Regions from separate parts of the Homo sapiens genome. Here region 1 is linked to region 2. The links come from fine-mapping of genetic effects on gene expression. A gene starts in region 2. The other region holds a variant in brackets. All regions are shown on one strand. Distances are between the middles of the regions.

Evidence for each region. PIP is the estimated chance that this variant, and not a neighbour inherited with it, causes the effect.
Region 1: its variant is the best candidate, but not a certain one, in a credible set for the expression of MICU1 in whole blood (INTERVAL, PIP 0.55).

Annotation. Positions count from the first base shown.
Region 1 is chr10:72,238,769-72,243,157 of GRCh38, reverse strand. No RefSeq gene overlaps it. Among named protein-coding and RNA genes, the nearest start is that of ASCC1, 25 kb to the right of the region's middle. The variant G/TG (reference allele first, on the strand shown) is at 2,109.
Region 2 is chr10:72,624,193-72,628,581 of GRCh38, reverse strand. It overlaps MICU1 (mitochondrial calcium uptake 1), which reads left to right and starts at 2,503. Exons shown (of 12, transcript NM_001195518.2): 1 at 2,503-2,572. RefSeq lists enhancers at 2,499-2,648, 2,199-2,736.

The sequences.
Region 1 (4,389 bases), 390 kb after region 2:
CTCAATAAGTGGTTGACCCTGTTAGTTTCTCTCTGGGGGCCTCTTTTTGTTTTCACTTCCCTCCCTCTCCAGCCTGGTCCAACAATTTGCTTAGCCCCTTACCCCTACCATGCAAGACTTCAACCACCAACTGCTCATTTTTTCCATTCCTCCTGCCAGGCTGCTGGGAGCTGCTGGTGGACTTCCCCAAAGAGTGGTGCTACTGTAAATGCAAGGCCTCTCACTGCAACAGGCCCCTGAATAGGTTTGGCAAGCCTTCTGACCCTGGGACACAGGCAGTAGGCCAACTTGCCTCTCCTTTACTGAGAAAAGAGAGGCCACTGGATGGGAATGCCCCCTCTTCCTGCTGCCCCTCCTACACATTTACCCACAGCAGCACATCCTGTTCTCCCGCCTCACGCCAGCCAGGCTCTGGCTCTCACCTCCTCCCACTTCCTCAGGGATCCGTCCGTCAATTATCCCCTTTTTCTTTTCTTTCTTTCTTTTTTTTTTTTTGAGACGGAGTTTCACTCTTGTTGCCCAGGCTGGAGTGCAATGGCGCGATCTCAGCTCACCGCAACCTCCGCCTCCCAGGTTCAAGCGATTCTCCTGTCTCAGCCCCCCGAGTATCTGGGATTACAGGCACCTGCCACCATGCCTGGCTAATTTTTGTACTTTTAGTAGAGATGGGGTTTCGCCATGTTGGCCAGGCTGGTCTCGAACTCCTGACCTCAGGTGATCCACCTGCCTCGGCCTCCCAAAGTGCTTGGATTACAGGTGTAAGCCACCGTGCCTGGCCAATTATCCCCTTTTTCTTTGACCTCTCCCATTGTAAAAGAAAAAAACGAGCTCTTTGCTATGCATTCTCCTTTAACTGTCCCCCTCTCAGTCCCTCAGTTTTTGCTTCCCCTTCCCGTTGAACTTCTGGAAAGTGTTGCCTGGATTTAGCCCCACTTTCCCCTCCTCCCCTCACTCTTCCCCCACAGCATTCTGGCTCTGTCTCTGCTACCCAGAGATGGCTGCTCTTAAGACAAGGTCACCAGCCAGGCACGGTGACCTTGTAATCCCAGCACTTTGGGAGGCCAGGGCGGGAGGATTGCTTGAGCTCAGGAGTCTGAGACCAGCCTGGGCAACATGGCAAAACCGTGTCTCTACCAAAAACACAAAATTAGCCAGGTGTGGTGGCATGCATCTGTAGTCTCAGCTAATCAGGAGACTGAGATGGGAGGATTGCTTGAGCCTGGGAGGGCGAGGTTACAGTGAGCTGTGATCTCATGCCACTGCACTCCAACCTGGGTGGCAGAGTGAGATGTTGTCTCCAAAAAAAAAAAAAAAAAAAAGTCACCAACAGTCTCCATGGTAAGATCCCAACAGCAGGCAGGGAGTGGTGGCTCACATCTATAATCCTAGCACTTTGGGAAGCCAAGACGGGTGGATCACCCGAGGTAAGGAGTTAGAGACTAGCCTGGCCAACATGGCGAAACTCCGTCTCTACTAAAAACACAAAAATTAGCTGGGCATGGTGGCGGGCGCCTGTAGTCTCAGCTACTCAGGAGGCTGAAGCAGGAGAATTGCTTGAACCCAGGAGGCGGAGGTTGCAGTAAGCCTTCTCCATCCCTTGTCTCAATTGCTTGGCTGCACCATATACTGCTGTTTGCAGCCTTCTTCTCAAAATGTGCTTTCCCCTTGGTTTCTGTGACGCCGTATTCCTTGTTCCATGTCTCTCTGGGGACTTCCTGCCAGTTGCTTTCCTGGATCTTCCTACTTTGCCTGTCCCTTATATGTCTGCATGCCCTGAGGATCCCTCCCTGGTGTGATTCTCTCCTCACTCCATGGGCTGTCTCCCTGGACAATCTATCCACTCTCCACCTTTGTCTTAATAAACACCTCCAGGCTGCTGAGTCTCAAATCTAACTCCAGCCCAGCTCACTCTCCAGACTATAGACCGGTGGAGTCACTTGCCTTTTGAACAACTCTGTAGCCTGCTTCCCTCTCTGTACCCCATCTCAGTGAATGGTACCACTAGTCCCTCAGCTCCTGACACAAGAAAACTTGGGTGTCCTCTCTGAGTTATCCAAGTTCCACCAGTCACTGAATCCTGTATATGACTTTTTTTTTTTTTTTTTTTT[G/TG]AGTCTCGCTCTGGCCCAGGCTGGAGTGCAATGGCGCAATCTCGGCTCACTGCAACCTCTGACTCCCGGGTTCAAGCGATTTTCCTGCCTCAGCCTCCTGAATAGCTGGGAGTATAGGTGCCCACCACCATGCCCGGCTAATTTTTCTCTTTTTTGTAGATATGGGGTTTCACCATGTTGGCCAGGCTGGTCTCGAACTTCCTGGTCTCATGTGATTTGCCCCCCTTCATCTCCCAAAGTGCTGGGATTACAGGCATGAGCCATCATGCCAGCCTTTTTTTTTTTTTGAGACAGGGTCTCGCTCTGTCACCCGGGCAATAGCACGATCATAACTTACCGCAGCCTTGAGCTCCTGGGCTCAAGCACTCCTCCTGCCTTGGTCTCTGGAGTAGCTAGAACTACAGGTGTGTGCCAACATGCATGGCTAATCTGTAATTTTTTTTTAGAGGTGGGGGTCTTGCTATGTTGGCCAGGCTGGTCTTAACTCCTGGCCTCAAGCGATCCTCCCACTTGGGCCTCCCAAAGTGTGGGATTACAGGTGTGAGCCACTACCCGCTGCCACTTCTCAAATCAAGTCCATCCTCTGTCTCCACATCTTTTTTTTTTTTTTTTTTTTGAGACAGTCTCACTCTGTCGCCCAGGCTGGAGTGCAATGGCATGATCTTGGCTCACTGCAACCTCTGCCTCCTGGGTTCAAGTGATTCTCCTGCCTCAGCCTCCTGGGTAGCTGGGATTACAGGCACCCACCATCATGCCCGGCTAATTTTTGTATTTTTGTAGAGATGGAGTTTCAACATGTTGGCCAGGCTGGTCTCAAATTCCTGACCTCAGGTGATCCGCCCACCTCGGCCTCCCAAAGTACTGGGATTACAGGCATGAGCCACTGCGCCCAGTCATATCCACACCTTTAATTTGGCCTATAGTCATCTCTTACCTGGACGACCTCAAAGGCTTCCTAAGGAATCTGGCTCTCGCCACCACCAATTCTCCACTATTCCCTCCAAGTAAATTATCTGAAGTATAACCAGATCTTGTCATGCTCCTGCCTCAAGCTCATCAGTGGTTCCCCACTGTCCTCTGGTTGAAGTTCAGATTCCTTAGCAAAGCCCACGAGTCCTACCCTCTGCCTTATTCTTGCCCTTATCACCTATGAATCAATCATAACGAACCACCCGCAGCCCCACAAAAGCAAGATGCCCTTTCCCACCCTTGGGCCTCTGCAAATTGTATTCCCTCCACCTATAAAGTTCTTCCTTCCCACCCCACTTACTTTTTCTTCAGGTCTCAGCCTAAACCTCATCCTTCATTAAAGCCTTCTCTGATGCCTGGCCCAGCTGGATTAGTTGTCTCTGCTATGGGATTGTCCAGCACCTCATGCTTTCCCCATCAGAGCAATTATTACACTTAAAATGACCTTTCTGTTCCTCTTAATATTTATTTATAAACTTCTTGAGGTTGATGACTGGGTCTTGTTTTACAGCATATCCTTAGCATCTAGCAGACACTAGACACACAGTGCTAGCGTCTGCTGAAAGAATGACAGACATTTGGAAAGGAACATCCTCTCTATTGCTGTAACAAATTGTATGTTGTTTCATTACCTGCTCTAAACAGGTTTTTTTTGGTTTTCTTTTGTTTTTTTTTTGAGACGGAGTCTCACTGTCACCCAGGTTGGAATGCAGTGGTGCGGTCTTGGCTCACTGCAACCTCCACCTCCCAGGTTCTAGAGATTCTCCTGCCTCAGCCTCCTGGGTGGTTGGGATTACAGGCGTGTGCCACTGCACCCAGCTATTTTTTTTTTTTTTTTTTCTGAGACAGTGTCTTACTCTGTTGCGCAGGCTGGAGTGCAGTGGCATGATCTTGGCTCACTGCAACCTCTGTTTCCTGGGTTCTAGAGATTCTCCCACCTCAGCCTCCCGAGTAGTTGGGATTACAGGCGTGCACCACCACACCAGCTAATTTTTGTACTTTTACTAGAAATAGGGTTTTGCCATGTTGGCCAGGCTGGTCTCCTGACCTCAGGTGATCTGCCCACCTCGGCCTCCCAAAGTCCTGGGGTTATGGGCGTGAGCCACCGCACCTGGCCCCACCTAATTTTTGTATTTTTATTAGGGATGGGGTTTCACTATGTTGGCTAGGCTGGCCTGGAACTCCTGACCTCAGGTGATCTGCCCGCCTTGGCCTCCCAAAATGCTGGGATTACAGGTGTGAGCCACTGTGCCTGGCCTCTAAACAGCTTATATTATAAAAAGAAACAGGCTGATTTGGGAAAACAACTCCT
Region 2 (4,389 bases):
TTTTAGTAGAGATAGGGTTTCACCATGTTGGCCAAGATGGTCTCGAACTCATGACCTCAGGTGATCTGCCGCCTCTGCCTCCCAAAGTGCTGGGTGCCATTGTACCCGGCCTCAATTTTAAGTCCTCATATGCTAAATTAAAAAAAGTTTATAGAGACAGGTTCTTGCGCTGTTGCGCAGGCTGGAGTGCAGTGGCATGATCATAGCTCACTGTAGCCTCAAAGTCCTAGCCTCACGTGATCATCCCATCTCAGTCTCTCAAAATGCTGAGATTATAGGTATTAGCCTCTGCCTGGCCGAATATGGTAAATATCGATAGGTATAACACACATAAATAAAAGTTATTTTGAGTCCTCAATAATTTTTAAGTGTATAGGGGTCCTAAGACCAAAACGTTTGAGAAACAATGATTTATGTTTTTAAATGTTATTTAACAGTTAGTTTGACTGATTAGTTTTATATAGACAAATGTTGCCTAAAATTAGAATTGAATTTCAGCAAATCTTTCTTTCTTTTTTTGAGACGGAGTCTCGCTTTGTCGCCCAGGCTGGAGTGCAGTGGCACGATCTTGGCTTACTGCAAGCTCTGCCTCCCGGGTTCCTGCCATTCTCCTGTCTCAGCCTCCCGAGTAGCTGGGACTACAGGCGCCCGCCACCACGCCTGGCTAATTTTTTGTATTTTTAGTAGAGACAGGGTTTCACCGTGTTAGCCAGGATGGTCTCGATCTCCTGACCCGCCCGCCTCAGCCTCCCAAAGTGCTGGGATTACAGGCGTGAGCCACCGCGCCCGGCCTGAATTACATCATTTAAGAGTGGAAGCCTCAGAGGCCTTCAGGTCAGGTCTATGTCCCGCTACTGCATGTACTGCATTACCTAGGGGTGTCAGCCTGCTTCCCTATCTGCAAATGAATAAAACAGTATCCATCCTAGAGTGGTTGTAGACAAGCACTGGGTTGTATGTAAAGCGCTAGCACAGAGCCATGAACACAATCATCTATTGTACTTAGGTTAGTTGGGTCTGAGAAGAAATGGAGAAAACAGAGTTGATTCTGCTTACTTCACAATTTACCCCAGGGATGGTTTTGTTGGCTTTGTTTCCATGGTTGTTGCCTTTTCCACAGCTCTGCTACGTAAATTCTTGGGAAAAAAAAATTATTTGAAAGTTCTCTGGGACCAGCGAGGTGGCTCGCACTTGTTAATCCCAGCACTTTGGGAAGCCGAGACGGGAGGATCGCCCGAGGTCAGGAGTTTGAGACTAGCCTGCCCAACATGGCGAAACCCCGTCTGTACTAAAAATACAAAAATTAGCCGGGCGTGGTGGGGCGTGCCTGTAATCTCAGCTACTCGGGAGGCTGAGGCAGAAGAATCACTTGAACCTGGGAGGAGGATGTTGCAGTGAGCATCACTGCACTCCAACCTGGGCGACAGTGCGAGACTCCGTCTCAAAACAAACGAACAAACAACCAACCAACACCCCGCTGCCCCCCCCCCAAAAAAATTCTCTGGTATTATAGTCATATTTCCATCCTATTTCCACAGCAGGGGTGAGGATCCTTTGCCATCCCATTTTTCTGATAAAAACACCTTCTTCAGCCGGGCGCAGTGGCTCACGCCTGTAATCCTCGCACTTTGGGAGGCCGAGGTGGGCGGATCACCTGAGGTCGGGCGTTCCAGACCAGCCTGACCAACATGGAAAAACCCCGTCTCTACCAAAAATACAAATTAGTAGGGCGTGGTGGCGCATGCCTGTAATCCCAGCTACTTGGGAGGCTGAGGCAGGAGAATCGCTTGAACCCAGGAGGCAGAGATTGCAGAGAGCCGAGATCGCTCCACTGCACTCCAGCCTGGGCATCAAGAGTGAAACTCTATCTCAAAACAAACAAACAAACAAACAAACAAAAAACACATTCTTCAAGGGAAAACATGTTTTTAAGTGGCTTCTAGAGATTATAAACTCTGCAATAATATTAGTCTGCAAATAAAACACCTGACAAAATCATCCACCAGAGGAAGTGGTGAGGGTTTCTAAATCCAAAAAAGTCTCAAGGTTATGAAACAGGAACATTTAATCTCTGAGAAAACCTAAACGGAGTTGGAAAGAAACAATTTCCAACTCACTGTGGTCCAGTTTTCTTTTCACGAACTCCTTTTTGCTTAGCCAACATAGCCAACACGAAAACGGGTACCGAGGAGGTGTTACAAGCCACAGTAAATTTCTCAACAGATTCCTATGACCCTTGTGGAGGGGAAAAAAACCAGAAGAAATGCCCGAGAGCTTCTGGGAGCTCTCCAGCTTTCCCGCCTAAACGCTGAGGGGAGTAAGGGGGAGTGACGGGGCTAGGGCGGGGCCCGAGGCTGGGGCGTGGCGCGTTGATTTCCCCGCCCCTCCCCGTTCCTTTTCCTCTGTGCCCCTCCCACACGCCTGTCTCCACGATCCCGACAGGCCCAGCGGCTAGGAGAGTCACGTGAGAGTGGGCGGAGGGGGTGGAGGTTTGTCTCCGCTGTTTCATCTCTATGGCTGTCAGAGGTGGGCGGCTTTGACCGAGAGGCTGCTGGAGCTCGTGTTTGGACGCGTGAGTCTTGGACTCTGGAGGGTATAAGGAGACAGCAATTTAGGGAAGGCGAAGGGGAAGGGGGTTGGCGAGACAGCCTTAGGGAACTGGGCTTCGTGGCTGGCCGTTTGTCCGCCCCGGGCATCCGGCTACTTCTCGGGTCTGGCGGGATACCTGTCTCTCCCTGATGCGCTCAGCTTTTGGAGAGGAGTCCGTAGTCTTGCTTGCCTCCCGTCCTCCACTTTCCTTCACCCCAACCCGTCCCTTCTCCCGTCCCGGGAGAACTTCTCCCAGTGCCGGGTTCGCAACTTGGCGCCGACGCCCCCCTCCTCACAGGCGACTGGGACACTCTGGTAGCCTTGACTGGCTCTCCTGGAATTTGTGGATGTGGTTAGAAGTGGGTGCGGGAGTTCACAGATGGATTTCTAATACGGAGAAATATTAACCACTGAATCGAAATAAGTGGAAAATCAGTGAGGACTCAAAGGAGAAATACAAAGTGCAGGCTACTCGGACTGTTCAGTTTTTATCTTTTCCAGCGCCTTCCCGTTTTCATTACGTTCTCCCTGTTTTGTTTTCACCGTCGCATTCTGGCCGGCCATAGGCTGTTTTGAGAAAGAGCTAGATGTTATTGACTCTATGTGAATGTTGGGAGAACAGTTTAAAACAAACTGTTCTTCAAGTTGCCTTCTCTGTAATCTTATGGTTGATGGTTTCTTTACCTTCCAATTTTCCATGTCTTAAAAAATACGGTGGCCATTAGTAAATATAAGTAGAATAAATATCTTATAGCTAAGGGACTAGAGTAAAATATTTTATTTTTCCTGTGGTACCTTAGAAACGCCCATTTTCTTCCTATTTATCAATAAATGTTTCTATCTCACTTGTTTGGGTGGCTTCTTTGATATGCCTTTGTTTATATTAGAACATCCCTTTGGGGCACGTAGGGAAGTGATCGAGCAGTATAAGAAAGGAGTTTGCATTTCATGAGGTGAAACAAGTTCGGTGTGGATAGCTGTAGGAGAGTTTAGGTTTCATTGGACCATATGACAAATAATAAACGTCAGTATCTTGAGACAAAGGTGTTGGCCAGAATGACCCACCTACTGTGTTTCTGGTGTGGACCAGGTAATGAGCTTTTTGAATATTGCCTTATCCTAAAAACTTTAGAACCCATTGCCACTTGTCTGTAGGAAGGTGGCTTTTGCCTCCAGCTACTCTTTGTCCCAATCCTTGGTTTGTCCCTGATTGTCTCTTCCACTTAAGAACATCACTCTGGCTACCTAATATATCAAGCAAGTGTCTCTGACATCTTCTGAGTGTCCTTACTGAGAGCCATAAAACATAATATTAACAAAAAGTGAATATTCTGGAGTGGCTTGTGTGCCTGAGGAGAAAGGGAAAGAATGATAGAAACTAATAGAAGCTAATAAATGCAAGAGAACAAAAGTGTTTATTGCTGTCTTCCTTTATATTTACTATATTCAGTAGATTGTTTACATTCCTAAGAAGTGCATCTTGAGACTAACTTTCCTGTGTTTAAGAATAAAACAGGCTGGGTGTGGTGTCTCAGGCCCATAATCCCAGCAATTTGGGAGGCCGGGTGGATCCCTTGAATCTAGGAGTTTGAGACCAGCCTGGGCAATATGGCAAGACCATCTCTACAAAACACAAAAATTAGCTGGGCGCATGCCTGTAGTCCTGGCTACTTGGGAGGCTGAGACAGGAGGATGGCTTGAGCCCTCGAGGTTGAGGCTGCAGTGAGCTGTGATCGTACCATTGCACTCCAGCTTGGGCGACAGAGCGATACCCTGTCTCTTAAAACAACAACAAAAGAA